3 linked regions of the Homo sapiens genome follow. The protein of the gene in region 3 interacts with the protein of the main gene of each other region in a biochemical or structural test. Each region holds a gene or a part of one and is shown on either strand. Other genes may lie near its edges.

Region 1 (7,630 bases), on a different chromosome or scaffold from region 3:
TCTCATTCTGTCACCAAGGCTGGAGTGCAGTGGTGCAATCTCGGCTCATTGCAACCTCCCCCTCCCAGGTTCAAGCGATTATCCTGCCTCAGCCTCCCGAGTAGCTGGGATTACAGGAACAGGCTGCCATGCCCGGCTGATTTTTGTATTTTTAGCAGAGACGGGGTTTCACCATGTTGGCCAGCCTGGCCTTTGTGTCTAGAATTATACAGTTCATGTGAAGATAAGGCCACTACGACAGATTTCAAAGAAGAAATTACTTTAGAAACGCCTTGGTTAAAATCAGTTTGGCCAGCTGCTGACAACTTATCCAACCAATCTTGTCTAACATCAAGTTGTGAAAAACACTTCAGTTTCTTAAACAAAGGGGTAGCTACACATCCAGAAAGTCAATGTTCAGTCAATTAGGCAAAGCCAGTCTCTTCGAACTCATCTCCGTTACTTTAAAACAACTTACCCTCTCCCTCTCCCTCTCCGTCTCCCTCTCCCTCTCCCCACGGTCTCCCTCTCCCTCTCTTTCCACGGTCTCCCTCTGATGCTGAGCCGAAGCTGGACTGTACTGCTGCCTTCTCGGCTCACTGCAACCTCCCTGCCTGATTCTCCTGCCTCAGCCTGCTGAGTGCCTGCGATTGCAGGCACGCGCCGCCACGCCTGACTGGTTTTCGTATTTTTTTGGTGGAGACGGGGTTTCGCTGTGTTGGCCGGGCTGGTCTCCAGCTCCTAACCGCGAGTGATCCGCCAGCCTTGGCCTCCCGAGGTGCCGGGATTGCAGACGGAGTCTGGTTCACTCAGTGCTCAATGGTGCCCAGGCTGGAGTGCAGTGGCGTGATCTCGGCTCGCTACAACCTCCACCTCCCAGCCGCCTGCCTTGGCCTCCCAAAGTGCCGAGATTGCAGCCTCTGCCCGGCTGCCACCCCGTCTGGGAAGTGAGGAGCGTCTCTGCCTGGCCGCCCATCGTCTGGGACGTGAGGAGCCCCACTGCCTGGCTGCCCAGTCTGGAAAGTGAGGAGCGTCTCTGCCCGGCTGCCATCCCATCTAGGAAGTGAGGAGCGCCTCTGCCCGGCCGCCCATCGTCTGAGATGTGGGGAGCGCCTCTGCCCCGCCGCCCCGTCTGGGATGTGAGGAGCGCCTCTACCCGGCCGCGACCCCGTCCGGGAGGTGAGGAGCGTCTCTTCCCGGCCGCCCCGTCTGAGAAGTGAAGAGACCCTCCGCCTGGCAACCGCCCCGTCTGAGAAGTGAGGAGCCCCTCCGCCCGGCAGCCACCCCGTCTGAGAAGTGAGGAGCCCCTCCGCCCGGCAGCCACCCCGTCTGGGAAGTGAGGAGCGTCTCCGCCCGGCAGCCACCCCGTCCGGGAGGGAGGTGGGGGTCAGCCCCCGCCAGGCCAGCCGCCCCGTCTGGGAGGGAGGTGGTGGGGCCAGCCCCCCGCCCAGCCAGCCGCCCCGTCCGGGAGGGAAGTGGGGGGGTCAGCCCCCGCCTGGCCAGCTGCCCCGCCCGGGAGGTGAGGGGCGCCTCTGCCCAGCCGCCCCTACTGGGAAGTGAGGAGCCCCTCTGCCCGGCCACCACCCTGTCTGGGAGGTGTACCCAACAGCTCATTGAGAACGGGCCATGATGACAATGGCGGTTTTGTGGAATAGAAAGGGGGGAAAGGTGGGGAAAAGATTGAGAAATCGGATGGTTGCCGTGTCTGTGTAGAAAGAGGTAGACATGGGAGACTTTTCATTTTGCTCGGTACTAAGAAAAATTCTTATCCTGTTGATCTGTGACCTTACCCCCAACCCTGTGCTCTCTGAAACATGTGCTGTGTCCACTCAGGGTTAAATGGATTAAGGGCAGTGCAAGATGTGCTTTGTTAAACAGATGCTTGAAGGCAGCATGCTCCTTAAGAGTCATCACCACTCCCTAATCTCAAGTACCCAGGGACACAAACACTGCGGAAGGCCGCAGGATCCTCTGCCTAGGAAAACCAGAGACCTTTGTTCACTTGTTTATCTGCTGACCTTCCCTCCACTATTGTCCTATGACCCTGCCAAATCCCCCTCTGCGAGAAACACCCAAGAATGATCAATAAAAAAAATAAATAAATTAATTAAAAAAAAAAAAAAAAACTTACCTCTGCAATTAGGTCACCTTCATTGATTTTGTCCCCCTCTTTTTTTTCCCAACGGGCTATGGTGCCTGCCTGCATTGTGGGGGAAAGAGAAGGCAATGGAACCTGGAAAAGGAAAAGAAGAAACATTAAAATTTTTAAGGACTACCTAACTCTCAGTCTGGCTTAAGATTTCATTCAATTCAATTTCATGCAAAGTGTATACAGTTCCATTGCACATTGGGAACTAGGGATGCCAAGGGAGTTCCTGTCCATGAGAAGTTAGTAATTTCCAGTGACAGGCTTTCTCCTCCACAGTCCTGTGGGTCTGACAAAGCATGAACCTCGGCAGATATTCTGCATACAGCCCCAGTCTTGAAGCTCTCCTTTCAATGAAATAGATCATGAGAGGGACACTAAGGAGCTACAGCAAAGCCAACTATTGGACAAAGGGCCAAAGCAGATACTGGGAATGGGTGGAGGATCAGTGAGGCCTCTCAAGGAGGATCTTGCAGGCATCCAGTCAGCTCTGAAGGACAACGGGGTCCCGAGAAGGGGGGTCTAGGGCTCACCTTCTGATGCGGGGGAAGACTGTAATAGCGGCGGCCGGGCGACCCCAAAAGCTGCAGCAGTAAGCGGTTCCGCGGCGTGGCCCCAGAACTGGGGGTCCAGCCGCACAGTGCCCGGACCCCGCCATACCCTGTAGTCACGCTGTTGCGACGAGCGGGAGCCGGGCCAGATCGCGAGGTCACTCGTGGAGTTCCGGGTACCTCCTGCAAGGCCGTCCACCGAGCCTCGAGTCCCGCCCATGGGGCTACATTCTGAGCCCGTCGCGCACAGACGCGCCACATAGTGCCACCAACCCCCCACACCCCAAAACCAACGCCGTCTCCGGAGTGACCTCTCCAAGAGCAGCGGCGTTGCCGTCAGCCACACCGCACAGCCGCACGTTGTCGTAAAATGGTTCCCGCAGGTTTACTCCACCCGCTCCCCAGGCCAGAAATGCGCGGCACGCACGCTCTTTCTCTACGGAGCGGGGACGAGGGGCACTACGGGGCAGGAGTGTTCCAGAGGGGCCTGTGCGGGCGCAAGTTTGGGAGAAATAACAGACGGAAAGGGGTGGAAAGTGGTAGGGTTCTAGGGGAGGCATCCGAAAGGGTGAGACGGGGCCTAAGAGATGACAAGGGCACGACCGAGGGGGAGGGGCCTAAAAAGGCGCAGAGACGCGGGTTAATTGCGGCCGAGTGGCCTGAGAGTCTGGGCCGAGGGGCGTGGCCAAGCTTTCTGGAAAAGCTGGAAGTGAGCCCGGGAACTGGCTAGGGCAGTGGGAGCCTCAGGCCAAAGGGCGGGGGTCTTGGAGTGCTGGGGTGGTGAAGGAGCCAGGAATCGCCCGCGAGGGAATCGAGGGGTCCGGCGTGGTGACCTCTGCTTCTGCGCATCCGAAGGGGGATGGACTGGGCCGCGCCCCGCGCAGGCTGTACTGGTTGCAAAGATTTCGTTTCAGGTTTGTAGCCCAAGTGGAAAGTGGAGTGAACAGGTGTTCCACCCAGCCAAGTGGTAACGAAAGGCAGCCCAGAGGAAGATACATTCCCGCATTCATGTATACTGTAGCAAGATTAAGCATATTCCCTGTATGAAGATATAGGTTTACAAAACAGGTGTTGCTCCCTAATACCATAGAATTCTTTTAAGTAACCAAAAGCTTCGTTATGTTTCAAATGTTTGAAAAACTTAACTGTAAGCCGTTGAAGGCATGAAGAGTGTCTGCGTGGTCCTTCCATGTAGCCCCAGAGCTTAATATCCAGTAAATAGCGGGGGCTGAATGTATGTCTTTTGAATCAATGAATAAAAAGTCATCTACACATTTTGTTAGGCACGCTTCTCTTGTAAAGTTGTCTTTTAATTAGAAAACATATCGTTTCTGAACTGAAGGTGACATTAGATAAGGAGGAAGCATGTGCTGTGTATCACCACCTCCCCCCTGTAGAGATGGTTAGAGAACACCAAGAACGCAAGAGGAAGTTGGAGGGAAGAAACTTAAAACAAGATTTTAGCCAGGAGCGGTGGTGCATGCCTGTAGTCCCAGCAATGCTTGAGAGGCTGAGGTGGGGGAATCACTTGAGCCCAAGAGTTTGAGACCAGCCTGGGCAACATAATGAGACTCCCATCTGTTAAAAAAAAAAAAAAATGGGGGCTAATCTTGCTAACAATTAATTTGGAAAACTAAAACAGATTGGATGTACTATTTCATGCCTACTTAAATTGGAATGTTTAAGCAGGTACAGCTGTCTATCAGAATAATATGTAAGCAATATAATTGAGAAATATAAAATTTCTAGATTGAATGAAAAGGCATATTTTAAATAATATGAAGAGAGCAATTATATTGTTACAATTATGTACAACTTATGAATTAACAATTGGAAGAAGCAATGAAAGAATAATTGTAATTACTGAAAGGACTTATTACTATTATTTGGGGATGGAGTCTCACTCTGTCGCCCAGGCTGGAGTGCAGTGGCATGATCCCGGCTCACTGCAACCTCCACCTCCCAGGTTCAAGCGATTCTCCTGCCTCAGCCTCCCGAGTGCTGGGATTACAGGCACGTGCCACCATGCCCAGCTAATTTTGTGTTTTTAGTAGATACGGGGTTTCACCATGTTAGTCATGCTGGTCTCAAACTCCTGACTTCAGGTGATCCACCTGCCTCGGCCTCCCAAAGTGCTGAGATTACAGGCGCGAGCCACCATGCCCGCCCAGGACTTATAAATTATTATAAAAATGTTTTTGAGTTGGCTAAAATATCTTGCTGCTTTTGCTGCATTTGAACTTAATAACTGGATCTAAATTAGACTTTGGTATAAAGTATGAGGTGATCTTCCGGATCTGTTGTGCACTTAGGTATGCTTGCTTAAACCCTGTTTTGCATTTTTCAAAGAATAGCGAGTTTGTGTCTTGAATATACTTTTGACTTAAGTGTAGTTAAATTATAGGAATGCATAGCTCAAACAGTCCAGAGATGGCGAGCTTACCCCAGAGGTGGGCTAGGAATGCTTAGGTTTCTCAAATCAGTCCTGAGAGAACAAGCTTGAATTCCACTAAACAGACTGGATAAAGGAAATTATGGAAAAGGAGACTCAAGACTCAAAGGTTTGAAATAGAGATACTTAAGAGAATGGTGATATCACTGATATTGAGAGAAACAGAAATTAGTTGGTAGTGAAAGATTTTGAGTTATGTACATATTTAATTTTAACATAATGGGATAGCCAATTAATAGTTGAAAATACGTAATTGGAAGTCAAATGAAGGCACTCAGGGATAAAGAATTTAATATAGCAAACATTTAAGATGAATTGATAAGAGGCATTTAAGAGGCAGCTTTCAAATGATCTGGGAATTCTGGTCATTTTAAATACACATTTCTGAAAGAGTTCTTAATGCTTGCATACTGACTTTTGTCATAGAGTTTATACTCTTGGGTTCTTATTTGTTTGCATGTTTACATATAATTTCAAAATAAGTGCTAAATAAATTGTCCTTGATAATAGCCTATGTGCTTACATAGAAATACTAATTGTAAAATATCTGTAGCAATAAAGTAATTCTTATCTCCACTCCACATAGTGAGTAAACATGCTACCAGGGAGATCACTTGAGGAAATTTGCTTTCACTAAATGTAAATGGCTTTATTGATTAATCTCATCAGTAAACGCAAGTGAAAATCATTAATGATATTTAGTTTGCAAACCCCATTTTATTCATAGTTTGTGGTTTTTTAAATTAGTTCACAAATCTGGTACATACCGGCAGTTAAAACTGGTTATCACTTTGATAATCAGAAGCCTCTGGTGTAACATAGTCTTCATGAAAACATATTGTAAAACAGGGAGAATACACAGTAATAATCTCTTTGAAAGCAATGGCTGTAAACATCCATGTTTCTAAGAAAATATAACTTTACATATATATGTATTTTAAGCAAGCTATACCTCTTACATAAATTCAGACAGTAGAAGGAGTGTGCAATCATAATGCTTATTTTATGGAAACAGTGAAAATAATTTTAATTATGACCTAAATGCTTTTAAGTAATTAAAGTCCTCTTGAATTGGATGTATAGTATAAAGATATTTTCCCTAATTTGCAACCATCCTGGTCAAAAAGAGCTGAAAAGTTGGTCAGTAAGTAGAAGTGCCATTACCAAGTAAGTTTAAAACAAATTCTTCAAATTTAAAAATGTAAAAATTGTAAAGTATCCCAATCCCCCCAGCTAATTTAGGGAACTGAGCAAGAAGAGAACATTCTTCAGTTTTTAAATGACTTTTTTTTTTTTTTTTTTGGAGATGGGGTCCTGCTCTGTAGCCTAGGCTAGAGTGCAGTGGCATGATCAGCTCACTGCAACCTCAAACTCCTGGGCTCAAGCAATCTTCCCACCTCAACCTCCTGAGTAGCTGGGACTACAGGTGTGTGCCACCATCCCCAGCTACTTTTATAATAAAATTTCTATGTAGAGACGGAGTCTTCCTACGTTGCCCAGGCTGGTCTTGAACTCCTGGGCTCAAGCAGTCTTCCTGCCTCGGCCTCCCAAAGTGCTGGAATTACAGGCATGAGCCACCACACTCAGCCTTAAATGAAGATTTTGTAAGGAATTGAGCATTCAACTAAACTCGTTTTTGTGAGATGGTCATTTTGTTTTAACCTAACATGGTTTAGAGATTATTTTATGAACTCTAAGCATTCTGGTTCCTCAGTTTTCTCAAAGAAAGAGAACTTTAGCAAGTAGCAGGACAAGCTACCCCACACCAATGCCACCAGGCGACAATACTATGAATAAGTCAGGAGGCCTCCTAGAATGCAGCCAAATAGGAAACTGTTCCAAACAGAATCAGTCTTGCATACTTCTGCTCAGAAGGCTCCTCTCGCTTTGGAAACTGGAATGAGGATCACCAACAGGATCCTCATTTTACACAGGAGTTATGAGAGTTACATCCTCTAGCAGAGATGCTTGGTCATTACCTGTGGTACATGAGATTACCGAGCTAAAAGGGAAAAAAAACGATCTTAATGTTCTCCCATGAACTCAACTTAAGCTTTTTATGGAGGCACTGAGGCCATGCAGCTCCTTTTCCAAAAGACACAGATAAAAGCCAAATAAGGTAGAGGACTTTGGAAATTTTCTCTGAAAAGTTAAATTCCACATAATAGTAAGACTGTTTGCTGAGAGAAAACTGACAAGTAAAAACTGGTTTAAGAGACAGACATTCAAGACAAACTGTATTGGAAATACAATAATGAATTTTGGCCTGATAGCCCTCATGCTGTCTTATAGCAAAACACTAAAATTCATGCAACAGAGAAATTGGTGACATGAGGACTTTTTCTCCAGACTTCCTGGGGAAAAACTGTGAGAATATACTTTTTTCTTCTGTTTGCTTTCGAAATGCATTCTTTCTTTTGCTGACTTTCCCAAACTTTCCCAGTCGTTTCTGATGAAAAATTCTTCAATAGGAAAAGACCAGGTAAACTTACATGAAAGACA
Region 2 (6,960 bases), on a different chromosome or scaffold from region 3:
AATGCTTCCTTGTTGAATAAGCCTCCTGAATTACTAACAATACTTAAAAACATTACTCCATGCTATTACAGTAATTAACAAGACAGAATACTGTAGTTTCAGATTTTCTTACTTTGCCTTTCCATGACCAAAAGCCAATTCCAGCTCAAGCAGTGGAGTATTTCAAATTCTACAATTTGAAAAAATAATGAAAAGCTGGATATATTTCTAAATAAATATCAATTTTATTAAAGCCAGGTTGTAATATGTAACTTTCAGAGTAAACAAGTATTCCTGAGACAGGATACATAGCAAAGTAACAGTTTTAACCATTAAATACATCTTAAAACTGGCTACAAAACTTCTTAAATACTTAAAATCTGTATGGCAGAGAAGAATTAAGAACTTCATATTAAACAGTATTTCAGTCTAAATTCAAACAATTTAGAAGCTTTTTAAAAAAGTGAATCTTGAAACAAAAGTTTAATAAATACTTGGTTGCTGTACACTAAGTTTCAGGACCCAATGAAATAAAAAGTCTGAATAGATGGAAATATTTGGAGAAGCAAACTTTATGACTATTTATCTTTAAGTGTTGATATAAGTAATAGTCGCAAACATTTTAATAAACACGATAAAGTTTAAATGCAATAACTTTTATCAAAACTGGGAGTCAAATAAACCAAGAAAATGACTTGGATATATGACAACCTATAAGGTAACACTTAATAAAAACTATTCTTTTTCTGGAAGGGGTTATATTTCAGTTTATCTAGAAGCTTAACTTTAGGTATTCCTCTATTTTGGTCGTATTTCTAGGTCATCATATTTAAAATTTCTTCCTTCTTTGCTTGCTTCCTTGTTATTATCAAAATTGATCTTATTAATTAAAAGATCCTAAATGTTATTAATACACATGAAAATATATTTTCAGTTCCAGTGCCAAAGTAGGTGTCTTTTATGCCAACTTTCTATAACATACAAGTACCAATGCCAAATATATTGTAACTCTAACACTGCTCAATTCAAAAGAAAAGTGACCCTATCATCTTTCTCAATCAAAACCAAAGTATGTTTTTCATGGTTCAAGACCAGGCAATGTAAAGTATTTCTGACTTGCCTCACATCATCTTCATTTTAAAAGCTCATGTAAATTATTTACTATTAATAAAATAGTAAATTCCATTCATTTAGCAAATGTGGTATGCTGTAAGATCTGCTTATAAAAGGCTAACTGTAATTAAAATACTACATAGCAACATTTTCAATTATATGAAATTCAGCTTTGCATTACCAAAGGATTCTAAATGTGCAACACTGCATTGATATACATTGTTAAAGTCTCTATTTTTGTGGAGGAAATATCAACCATTATACCAAAGTTTTCAAGCTTACGTCTGACTGCACAAGAAACCAAACTTATAAAGAGATTTCTTAAAAAGTATATTTAAACAAGAAATTTAGATGCAGTTGCAATACTTAATTTTGACATCAACTCTTCAGAATTTCTTGATTTAGTCTTTTTTTTAAAAAAAATTAACTGTCCAACACACAAAAAGAAATGCAGGCATGCTATTTTTTTCTCCTAATTCCCATCTACAATCTTTGAGTAGCTAAAAGATAACTATATTAAAATAAAGCAAAATAACTTTTAAGTCAAAAAACAAACATCTCTGGAACACTCCCAAGTAATGAAAAACCCGACAGGGTAGCTTAAGTCCCCATGTACACCATAGAGATCTAAAGAAAATCGTGCCTACATTATCAAATATTTATCTGGAAATGGGAAATAACATTGCTACTCGACATGACTTAACTAAGCGATCTACTTTGCTCTCATCTTTTGCAGACATGTGGTGCCCAATGTTTTCCCTTAGTCGACTGCTTTCTCATTAGTAAACAACTTATTAGCTCTTTCTCTGGTGCTCAAATGAGAGGGAAAATGAAAGTCTGAAAAGCATCAGCATCTGAGCTCCCGGATCTGGGCAGGGGTAGCAGAGAAAGGCACCCTGTATTTATCACTCGGTTAAAAAAAAAAAAAGAAAGGAAAAGAAAAGAAAAAGATAACCCTCAAAATAGAGGAAAGAAACTCTGTCACCTGAAGAGGGCTGCTGAAGTGAAGCAAACATTTGGTGAGACTCGTTTTTTAAAAAAACTTGTCTAGGGGCTGGAAGTTATGGGGGCGCTCTTTGTGCGGAGTCTGAGGGGAGGGGGAGGGACAAGAAAACAGCTTGGGAGTCATTCAAAGGAGTTTAAGGAGCGGTGTACGGAGGAAAGGCGGGGCGGGGCCCGGCCGCGCGAAGGGAGGGGGCAACAGGGGCGTTCGCGGGTAGCTCTGACACCGAGGGAGGGGGCGACGGGCCGGCCTCTCCGGGGACCAGGCGAGAGCAGGCTCCCGCTGCAGCAGGGCTGCAGAGATGGGGTCCCCTCTGGTAGGCAGAATCAAACCAAAGCGGTGGCAGGCCAGGGCTTTGGCGGGGGAGAGGGTCCGGCTCCCCAGGGAAGCGGTTCCCCGAGGGAAGCATTTCCCGAGTGACATCCCGGAGTTTCCGCACTTAGCGGGCTAGGGGCGCGGCGGCCGCAGGGCTTTCCTCGGTCCCCGACGCCGCGCGGGGCTCTCTCCCTGTCTCCTCCGCCAGCGCCTCTCACCAGGGCCGCGGCCCTTACCTGCAGTTCCGTGAGCAGAATCTCCCCCCGTTCGGGGTTGGACGCCATTGCGCTCCGGTATGGACTCCGCACCTGGACGCGGCCGCCTCTGGCGAAGGGAGAAGGCGGGACGGGGCTCGGGGTGGGGGTGAGGAGAGGGGAGAGAAAGAAAAAAAAAAAAACAACTAGGGATTCATGGAGGCGCAGCCCCTGCTGGAGGCGCGGCTTATTCCGTCCGGTTCATCGAGAGCGGCGGGGAGCTAGGGCACTCGTAGCGGGCTTCCTCTCGCCGCCCTCACCGGACTGTTCGTCTAGTCGCTCCCTCTGGGCGACGCCAGGAGCCGCCTCAAGCCTCTCCGTGCGGGCGCTGCGGCCGCGGCTGCAGCTCCTCCTGTCGCACCATTTGGCTGTCACCGCGTCGCAAAAGCGGCCTCACTTGGCGGCTGCCAGCACACGTGACGGCGGCAGCCACTGCCCCTCATCGGGCAGGGAAGGTGGGGCGGAGGGGTTCCCTAGGGCGAACGCGGCGAGGGGGCGGGGCGTCTTCCGACCCGACTCCGCGGCGAGGGCAGCCATTGGACTCGGCTGGGGTGAAAATGAGGGGAAAGGACTGGGCTCGAGTCTCTGGGGAGGCGGGAAGAGGAAGAAAACACACGCCTACTTTCCTGCTGCGTTTAACGGCTTCACTGTGAACGCTAGAACTCGGGAGCCTGCTCGCTGTTGTTTTTTCGGGTTTCGTTTTTTTTTTCTTTCTTTTTTTTTTTTCCCAGTTCCACCTTGCCGAAACTTGGGCCTAACTTTAACAGGCCCTTTTCTAACCTCCATAACCCAAAGAGCTTCGGGACTCAGATCTTACAGATTATTCCTCTGCTCTCCCCTTGACCCCCACGTCAACCCAAACTAATAATCTTGCCTTTTGCTCACCCTCAAACCCAGCCCCCAGCGCGCCTTCTCGACCAGTTAAGGTGCACAGCTAGCTAAACGGGTATGGTCTGTACTTTTCATGAAATGTAAGCGGCTGGATCCCTGGCAACTTTTAATGTACGGCCTTTAAGATGTCTTTTTCTTGAGGTTGAACTACTGTTGCTTGTACTGGAGAACTGTACAGAGCTGAGAATTAGCTGGGTTTTTTTGGGTTGTTTTAACTTTATTTAAGGGAGGGGGAGGTGGGACGGGATTACCCTCGGGAAAGGAAAAAAGCCACCTTTCCTTGGCGTGGTAAGCATTAAAGCTAACCTGACTACTTAGTAAAATATAGCTAAGTAAAGTAAATCTAGGTGTTTGTTTTTAATGACACTATGGTATTAAGGAATTTCGAAGTCTCCTACAGGTAGCTTTTGTTTTTGTTTTGTCTGAGCAGTGAATGGATAGGTAAACGCGTAACTTTTGATTTTTTGAAGCTGCGGTACAATACCTTTGTTAAAACTACCTGGAGAGAGTGGTAAGGGTTATTTAGGTACGTTGCTACTTAGAAAGGGCATTCGTTGACATATTTCTTAGGAAGTGTAACATTATGTACTTCTCACACGCTCCATGTAACTCTGTTGGCCTGATGCCAGGACTTAACGTCTATCCTTTTGCCTTCTCAAGTCTCATACATCAATTCAGCAAACATGTATTGAAGATCTGGAGTTCTGTGGCCACAGTTTCTGAACTCTAACTTATCATATGTGTGATAAAGAATTTTTCTGGTGTGTACTTCACAAGTCTTACAACTATTTATGTGTCTAGTATATTGCCTTGGTTGAAGATGATAATTAAATACATGAAAGAACACTTGGAAAGGCCGGGATATGATTACCTTTACTGGTAACTAAAAGCCAGATGGTTTCCTAGGCTTTGGAGTTACAGAAAGGATTAGGAGTTCTTATCCGGCCAGGCGCAGTGGTTCACGCCTTTAATCCCAGCACTTTGGAAGGCCAAGGCTGGCCGATCATCTGAGGTCGGGAGTTCGAGACCAGCCTGGCCAACTTGGTGAAACTGTCTCTACTAAGAATACAAAAACTAGCTGGGCGTGGTGGTGTGCGCCTGTAATCCCAGCTACTCGGGAGGCTGAGGCAGGGGAATTGCTTGAACCCAGGAGGTAGAGGTTGCAGTAAGAGTGAGACACTGCCTCAAAAAAAAAAAAAAAAAGGTACTTATCCTTGGGGTGACTGGAGAATTCTTTGGGGAAGCCAACTTATGTCCGAACAACAATAATGCCATTTTAAGTAATAGATACAGTGTTAGGGGAGCACTGCATGCATTTGTGTGTGTGTGTGTATAATGTTTTATTATGGTAAAATGCATAATCAAATTTATTATAACCATAAGTGTACAATTCAGGGGCATTGAATGCACACAGATTTATTTATTTATTTATTTTTGAGACAGAGTCTCGCTGTGTCACCAGGCTGGAGTGCAGTGGTGCCATCTCAGCTCACTGCAACCTCCGCCTCCCAGGTTCAAGTGATTCTCCTGCCCCAGCCTCCTGAGTAGCTGGGACCACAGGCGCATGCCAACACTCCTGGCTAACTTTTGTATTTTTAGTAGAGACGGGTTTCACCATGTTGGCCAGGTTGGTATCGATCTTTTGACCTCGTGACCCTCCTGCCTCGGCCTCCCAGAGTGCTGGGATTACAGGTGTGAGCCACCGTGCCTGGCGTACAAATTTATTTTTGTCAAGGCTTACTGCAGAATGGATTTGAGATGGCTGACATGCACATAGAAGGTGATTAATAATGGTGGAACTAAGAGTTAACTGTGCAAGGGCTTAGAAATACAGTCAATGAGCAGTCTTTGTAAAAATTAATTTAGATATAAATGTTCACATTTCAGCATCATGTAATTTTAGAACTAGAAGTGACTTGAAATATCTAGCTTAACTCCTATTGTAGGTAGGAAAAAAAATTAATAGTTTCCTTAGCTAATTAGAAGCAAGACAGCAGTATTACTTAGTGGCAGAGATGGGGACTATTACCTAAGTCTCCTAATTGCCATCCATGCTTGTTTTAACCTTCACCATGCCACTATAATAACTTTAAATTGATATTAAACTGAAAGCATTAAATTTTTACCGTAGAAAAAGACTTTAAATGTTACACACTTCTAATGTTAAAAGTGTTAATAATTAAAAAAAATTTTTTTGAGACAGTCTCGCTCTTTTGCCCAGGCTTGACTGCAGTGGCATGATCATAGCTCACTGCAACCTCAAATTCCTGGGCACAAGGGATCCTCCTGACTCATCCTTCAAAACAGCTGGGACTATAGGTGCACACCACTGTTGATAAGGAATATTAATTTTACATTTCACATGTAAATTTAAGCAACAAATATACAAAGTTTTTAAAGTTAAGGAATTATTTCTGAGATTAGCTGTGCTAGGGAAAGTAGTACAAAAGGGAGGCCAACAATATTAAAACTACTTGATAATCTAAAATATGTGATGATTTAAACAGCAAATTAGTTTCATTTAAGCTAAAATTTACTACCCAGGTCACATTCTCTGTTCAGGGGGAAAAAAACGTAATAGGACATGGATCATACTTATCAGACTGAAGCACACTTGAAAAAGTTTTAATGGAAACATATCAGGTTGATTCAGATGGGTTGTATTGGGCCCCTATTTACAAATGTGTTTAGAGAATCTTAAATATAGTTCAGAAGTAATTTACATTAACAATAAAAAAAAAAGAAGAGTTTTTTTAGTGTCCATTTAAGAGGGCAAAGTCCTTAAAAATATCTGGATTGTATCACTAGTTATGCTGGTACCTTTTTAAATTTTTCATAAATATTTTAAAGGTCTTTAAGAAGTAGAAATGACCAAAAATCTAGAAATAAATAGAAAGTGTTATCTTTTTTTCTTAAAGATGGGATGTTACAGGAAAAATTCTAGAAAAGCTAACAACTTTTTTTTTTTTTCATTTTCTGTGCTTTTGAAACAGATATTCAGATAATATGGGCCCTCTTTTTCCTTAAATTTCAAGTGAAATGAGACAGGAACCATATGTCCAGGGAAAGGGCCAGAAATCTTTATTTTGTGAGTCACATTTTTATTGCCTTCCGTTGTTTATTTCCCTTTTGCTTGTCCTTAATATTTGTAAACTGTTCAATTCAAACGTGTCCCTACAGTATGATGGAGAATCAATACAAGAGTTTTGTTTTGTTTTGTTTTCCTTTCGTTGTTGTTGTTTTCCATGTTAGAAGAAAAAGCCCACCCCTACTTCCAAAAGATTAGAATGAAGTAGCAGTGGTAATCAAAGTAAGAGTGCCTAAGGAAAGGCAAAACTCCAGAGGTCAGAGTAAGAATTACTTGGTCACCACCCTCTTCTTCCTTAAGAAACCCCCTTGTAGAAA
Region 3 (7,026 bases):
TCTACTTACCTTTTTGCATCAAGGGTCTCAATGTCAGTCAAGTATTAACTAAAACTGTTATTAATAAACTTTATTATTCAGATTTTTACCTTTTACTACAAAAACTGCACACTATCTGATACTGCTTGGATAACTACAGTCTAACACTGAAACACAGCTCCTTTTAAAAATATCATTTCTAGATCACTGCCCAGGAAATGTCTTGGAGTGTAAGTATACACTGAGTATGGTGTACTGCTCTGAACTGGAAACTGTAGGTTCCAGATGCCAGTTATCAACACTACTCTGCTCCTAAAGTTCCCCTATCCCCTGCTCCTTTTCCTTCCCCTGCTGCCTTCTGGTCCTTGCATCCTTGCTGCTGCTGAGCCTGTTCCCCTAGGACCGACTCTGCTACAACCAGATACAGGGTCAGCCTCCACTCTGAGTTTGGCCAACCTCCTTCCTAGTACCATTGTTTTGGGTTCACCATCACGATACCATCCCACTCCATTCTACTAGTTAGAAAGAACACAGAGCTTGGCATGATGCAACAACCTGTAGCCGTAGTGGTTGCTAAAGCAATGACAGTTGGCTTGTCTCAGGGTAACAGCAAGTCTTATTTTGGTTTGAGTCAGGCCCTGGAGTGGCAAAACAACTGGAGACATGTTGAAGCCATCATCCTTGGCTGGTTCAAACTACATCTTAGAGAACAGAAGGAGTTTTAGAAAGAACTGTATATGAAACTTAGCCAATTATATTTTCACAATTGTTTGATTCTATATTAAAAAAAATCAAAGCACTTACTATTTCAAATTTTTGTTTTAGAAGCAACCTCGCTCTGTCACCCAGGCTGGAGTGCAGCAGCACAATCATAGCTCACTGCAGCCTGGAACGCCTAGGTTCAAGAAATTCTATCACACCTCAGCCTCTGGAGTAGTTGGGATTATAGGCGTGAGCCACCATGCTTGGCTATTTTGGATTTTAATTTTGGACTCAAAATGTAAGCATGTTGATGTTAGTCTTTGGCTGGTTTAAAACATTCCTTTGAAGACAATATGCCTGAGAGCTAATTTAGACACAAACTGTTTCTAAAGGCTTACTCTTTTATATTTCCACCCTTATATAATCATACCACTGTAGAGAAAGATCCCAGGAATAAGACCCCAAAGCATGCTACAAAAGTGGCATGATAGAGAAACTACCACTGTTTAATGGGTGCAAGGTTTCCTTTTAGGGTGATAAAAATGTTTTGGAACTAGACAGAGGTGGTGATTGCACATTGTGGATGTACTGAATGACACTGAATTACACTTTAAAATGGTTAGTTGTAGGTCATGTGAACTTCAACATGAAAAAGGTTTTTTTTTTTTTTTAAAAAAAAAAGGAAAGAAAAAATAAACTACCACCATTCTCTCTGCTACCACAGAGCACTAAAATCTAGGAATTTGACTTTACTGCAGCCATTAACACCAGCACTGATGCCACTTCTGTATCAGGAACTTAACCTGACAACCATGAAAGGTCCTCTGAAAGCCAGATGATACATATGGCAAAACTCATGACAGCATATGGACAACTGCACAGAACTTGTGCTTCATGTTGCTGAGTGCAGATGTTTCTAATTACCGAAGTTACTGTCTGCCTCCTAGCAGCAAAAGAGACTTGAGGAAGTAAGGTTCATAACATGGAGGTTCACTAAAGTATAGAAAGGCCATTCAAAAGGTTGTGGGCTTCCACAAAAATGGTAAGTATTCATTACATCCTCCTAGCCTTCTGTGGATGCCAAGAGTTTGATTAAGTTCTAAGAGAGAGGAGATCTTCTTTACCTTCCAGAGGATGCAGGCAAATTGGCTTTGCTAAAGCACCCAATGTCTGCTTATGATCACTATACTCTCATCAATACTTCCCAGGTCTCCAGAATTAGGACAGTCATTTGTTGTTAAATTAGCTGTATATTTCTCCCAGCGATCATATTCTCATGAAGCCTGATCAACGACTGACCCATTTGGTCATAGGACTATGCTATCCAAGAGAGGACCCAGTGATGCCACCACTGAAGGTATCTATGAAATTAAATGGTTTTATGTCTATAATAGTACAGAGTTTTATGGTCACGCAAAGTATGTATAAAATCTGGCTCATGGAGTTTGGGAAGAATAGTGATTGGACTGCAGAAATTATAGCATCTATCAGGTTTGGGGGAGGGGGAGTTGTGGGGGTAGTAGTTAGTGAATATCAGCACGCTGACCTTTTCAAACAGGTGGTAAATGTCTTTCCACAGATCCTGCCCCTATGTTGGTCAGAGAGAAGCAAAGTAGGTGAATTATTTTCCAATAATTAATATTAGCATAAATGGGGCAAACATGAAAATGAAAATCTAAAGAAACCCACTCAGCACAGCTTTCATGAGCTCAGTGCCGACTCAAGATTTACAGAGAGGCTGAGCACGGTGGTTCATGCCTGCTATCCCAACACTTTGGGAGGCCAAGGCAGGAGGATCACTTGAGCTCAGGAGTTCGAGACCAGCCTGGCCAACACGGTGAAACCCCGTCTCTACTAAAAATACAAAAATTAGCTGGGCATGGTGGCAGGCACCTGTAGTCCCAGCTACTTGGAGGCTGAGGCAGGAGAATCACTTGAACCCAGGAAGCAGACGCTGCACTGAGCTGAGATCACACCACTACACTCTGGCCTGGGCAAAAGAGCAAGACTCTGCTTCCAAAAAAAAAAAAAAAAAAAAAAAATTACAGTGTAGACCAAACCTGGACAGTCTAGTTAGCTCCACTCACATATCTTTAAGCTCAGAGGCTCTTGAACGCCTATGTGTCCCACCCAGAGGCCTCCAGTGTCCTTGACTGTTCATAGTGGAATAGAAGGAGGCATTATGGTATTTGGTTCTATCTCTTGTGCCTCCTGTTGACTGGATCCTCACTTAGAAATAAAAGACTGACACAACCCAATGGATGGGCTGGGGTAAGATGCCAAGGAGAGTAATATAGGTGTGTCACTAACTAAATGGGCCAACCAAGCCCTGTGCCTCCTTCTTAAAATGGGGAGTCTATAGAGGGAAAAGTTTTCTCTGAGAGCCTCAGGAATGTTAAGCCTGGCATCTACAAATGTATCTTTGGGGCTGAGATCTTGAATCTTATACTTGCTTAATAAGCCATTTACTGCCTGCCATTTGGAAGATAAGAAAGAAAAGGGCATCAGAGATCAATGCCCCTAATGATAGTTGGATAAGAACATACCCAATATAAAGCTCCAAAATAATCTCGAAACTAGAAAAGTAGTCTGGCCACATCATATTGTGGCACAAAACAGTAACACTCAAGCAGCCCTGGACTGGGCCAGTGAAATTTTACTGCTGACCCTTCCAAGTCTAAATGGAGAGGGCTAGACAAGAGGGCAAAGTCAAGTTCATGGTGTTGCCATTGGACATACTGCCATTTACTCAATTATGGACACCACATCAAAGACCAAGTGAATAAGGTGGAACTATGTTACTTAGCTATCTCTAGTCCTCAGTAAAACTCCAGAGGCCATGATTTTTCTGAACTGGAGATTCAAACGTGAAATGTATTAGCAATGAACATTGGAGAGGAAAAACGTTTTTTTAAAAAAATTTGTAAGTTAAAAAAAAAGCAAATACTTAGATTTAAGTCTAACAAAATATGCGCGGAATCTGTAAGCTGAAAACTACAAAGTAACAATGAAAGAAATCAAAGGCAATCTATGTAAAGGAAGATATATGCTATGTCTGGCCAGGTACGGTGACTCACGCTTATAAATCCCAGCACTTTGGGAGGCCAAGGCAGGTGGATCCCTTGAGGTGGCGACACCCTGTCTCTGCTAAAAATACGAAAATTAGTCAGGCATGATGGCGCTCGCCTGTAATCCCAGCTACTGGGGAGGCTGAGGCAGGAGAATTGCTTCAACTCAGGAGGCAGAGGTTGCAGTGAGCCAAGATCATGCTACTAAACTCCAGCCTGGGTAATCTCAGAGCAAGACTCTGTCCTCACCCCCCGCCAAAAAAGATATACGCCATGTTCATAAATTGAAAAGCTATTGTTAAATTCTCCTCAAATTGGTCTAGAAATTTAACACATCACAATCCAAATCTCAGAATTTTTTTAGATATTGATGTTAATATCCTTGCCCATCAGTAGTGACAGAAGCATCGATCTTACCAGCCAAATATAAATGGACTCTCCTTTGTTAAACCCTCAGCAGTCACCCATACAGGACATTCATGTATTAGATTATGTGAAATGACTATAGTCATCCGCTAAATTAATGCAGAACATTAATAATGAAGTTTTATCAGGGCCTTCCATTCACAGGCATAAGAGGTCTTATCAACTGACTTTGATGTTACCTGCCTGGATCTAACCCTGGAGACTAGATCCACATCGACATTCACCAGAGAAAATCACTTGGACCTTGCTCTTTAAGGGGCCACACTAAGTCCTATCTACCCCCCACCACTGCTATAAAGTGCCAGAGCTTTCGGTCTTGGGTCCATGCTTCCCACTGCCAGAGACTTCACTTATTGCCTGCAGCAGACAACATTAGTGAAGCTCTCATTAACCACTCAAGTTTGCTGTCGTCTTCCATGACCTTCCCCATGAAATGGATACAAAGATAAGCATTACACATGGGTATCACTTCCTTGCATTAGCCAATTATCAGGATTTCCACTAGTTATATGTTCACTGGGTAAGATCCTTAAAATTCAGATGTCACAAAGATTAACTAATGGGTTTTCGATCTCGAGGTCATGGACACATCCACCAAGTACCCTGTATATCAGGAATAGATCCTTCTTATCTTTTTTAAGTACTCTAAGAATCAGATTACCAGATCTGTCTTGCCATTTGCTCTGTAACTGGTCTCGTCTTTCCAGCTGGCCCTTTGGGCTGCTAAAAGCAGTTTATCTCACAACCTTTAGTCCTTTGCTACTCAAAGTATGGCTCACAGACCAGCAGCATTAATATCACCAGGAAACTTGTTAGAAATGCAGAATCTCAGGCCCCACTCCAGATCTGCTGAACCAGTCTGCATTTGCTCAAGATCTCCAGGTGATTCGCATCAGGAGCATTGCTTACAAAGATTTAACCTTACTTTCCATTGGTTAAGTGAGTCCTTATCAAGCCAACCCTGATCCAAGAGTAACAATCAAGTTCAGCTGTGCACCACAGCAAATGAGGCATCACCTGATGGTTCTTAATGGGTGGTTGTTCCTATTTGTTGCTTTTGTTGGTCACTGAGAGTTGGTTTTAAGATTAAAGGGACCTTTTTCTCCAAAGGAAGATTTGCCACACCAAAGCAGGAAAGGCAATGGTTTACCAAACAAAAAAACCCTAGGCCCTTTTATAAGTCTAATGTTTACCCAAACACAGAAACATAAGATGTTTCTTTCCTCTATGCTCCAAAATATTAGGTCAGAGTTAGAAAGGAGAATCCATAGGCAGGTAACTTTTTGTTAACACCTTGCAAATGGTGATACTTGCAACGCCTGGCAAATGGTGACGCCTTGGACGTATTACTCAACAAATTTTCCATGGCAGGCCCATGGATCCAACCTCATAGACAATTCCAGTATGTCTGTCTTACATCTGACACTATACGAGGTTTATTGTAACATCCACTAATGGCTTATATAAGTGAGTTAAGCACTTTTAATTACAACTATCCCCCAAAGAAACTGAATTTCCTGTTTCTGTTGATGTGATCATATAGTTTTTCTCCTTTAATCTGTAGAGAGGTAAATTACATATTTTTATTAAAACATCCTCCTGTTCCTGGGAAAGATTCTCCTTTTGCTCATGATACAATATTTTATGCACTGCTACATTCAATGTGCCAATATTTCATCAGCAATTTTTCCATCTATGTTCATAAACAAGATTGGTCTATTAATATTTCACAGTCTTTGCTCAAGTGTAGCTTTGAGATTTTACTAACTTTCTGAAATGGGTTGGGTAGCTTTCTCTCATTTCAAAGTTTCTATAAGACAGGAATTATCAGTTTCTTGATGTTTTGGTAACATTCATCTTTCAAAAATTGTCTTTTGGCGAGGTGGACTTGTGATTACTGATTCCACTTCCTTAGTGGTTGATTTAAATTGTCAAAATCTTAGATGGATCTTCTACTGTTTTCCTAGAAATATATCCATTTCTTCTCCACTTACAAAATTTTTATCATAAAGTTAATGGTATTCTTATGATTATTTTAAATCTCTATTGGTAGTTATGTCCTTTAAAAAAAAATCTAAATACTGTTTATTTGGGCCTTTTCCTTTCCTGACTGGAGGTTTATCTGAAGGGTCCCTTCTGCTGCAGCCTGCAAAGCCTCCATCAAGGGACACCCACTAGCTGGTTGCTGCCACAGCTGTGGCTTTACCTACCCCAGCTAACCCAGCGAGTATTAGTCCATCCCCACACTGCTATAAAGAACTGCCTGAGACGGGGTAATTTATAATAAAAAGGATTGACTCACAGTTCCGCAAGGCTGCAGAAGCCTCCAGAAACTCACAATCATGGTGGAAGGCACCTCTTCACAGGGCAGCAGGAAGAATGAATGCAGGAGGAACTACCAAATACTTATAAAACCATCAGATCTCATGGGAACTATCACGAGAACAGCATGGGAGAAACCAACCCCATGATCCAATTACTTTCATCTGGTCTCTCCCTTAACATGTTGAGATTATAATTCAAGATGAGATTTGTGCGGTGGGGACAGAAAGCCTAACCATTATCAGTATGTTTGCTTGTTTACTTCTATTTTAAACTTTAAAATAAACCCGTAACTTTAGCAGTGCTGTTTTGCTACTCCTCTTAAATTCTCTCATTTTCTTGTGTATTTCATCCTTTTGCTAGTTTTGCACTGGTTACTACTCAGTTTCTTTGTTGTACTGAGTCATTTAAGTATCATTTTGAGAATGGAAAAAAATGTTATTAAGTTCATTATTCCTTATGTATTTACTGAGCATACAATTGTTATAGAAGGCAGAAAGAATTTAGGTAGACAGGGTAAAGCGAGTCC

Evidence for each region. The genes of interacting proteins can lie anywhere in the genome.
Region 1: the proteins of PDK1 (region 3) and DLAT form a complex in vitro, tested with the Homo sapiens proteins (one study listed by BioGRID).
Region 2: of the proteins of PDK1 (region 3) and PKN2, one has a biochemical effect on the other in vitro, tested with the Homo sapiens proteins (one study listed by IntAct).

What each region holds. Positions count from the first base shown.
Region 1 is NC_000011.10:112,020,780-112,028,409, reverse strand, and holds the start of DLAT (dihydrolipoyllysine-residue acetyltransferase component of pyruvate dehydrogenase complex, mitochondrial isoform 2 precursor), read right to left. Parts: upstream 3,003-7,630; 5' UTR 2,938-3,002; coding exon 2,659-2,937; intron 2,213-2,658; coding exon 2,111-2,212; intron 1-2,110.
Region 2 is NC_000001.11:88,680,315-88,687,274, reverse strand, and holds the start of PKN2 (serine/threonine-protein kinase N2), read right to left. Parts: upstream 3,003-6,960; 5' UTR 2,695-3,002; coding exon 2,647-2,694; intron 2,112-2,646; exon of another isoform or gene 2,071-2,111; intron 1-2,070. UniProt on the Homo sapiens protein: PKC-related serine/threonine-protein kinase and Rho/Rac effector protein that participates in specific signal transduction responses in the cell.
Region 3 is NC_000002.12:172,601,066-172,608,091, reverse strand, and holds part of PDK1 ([Pyruvate dehydrogenase (acetyl-transferring)] kinase isozyme 1, mitochondrial isoform 2 precursor), read right to left. Parts: 3' UTR 1-7,026. UniProt on the Homo sapiens protein: Kinase that plays a key role in regulation of glucose and fatty acid metabolism and homeostasis via phosphorylation of the pyruvate dehydrogenase subunits PDHA1 and PDHA2.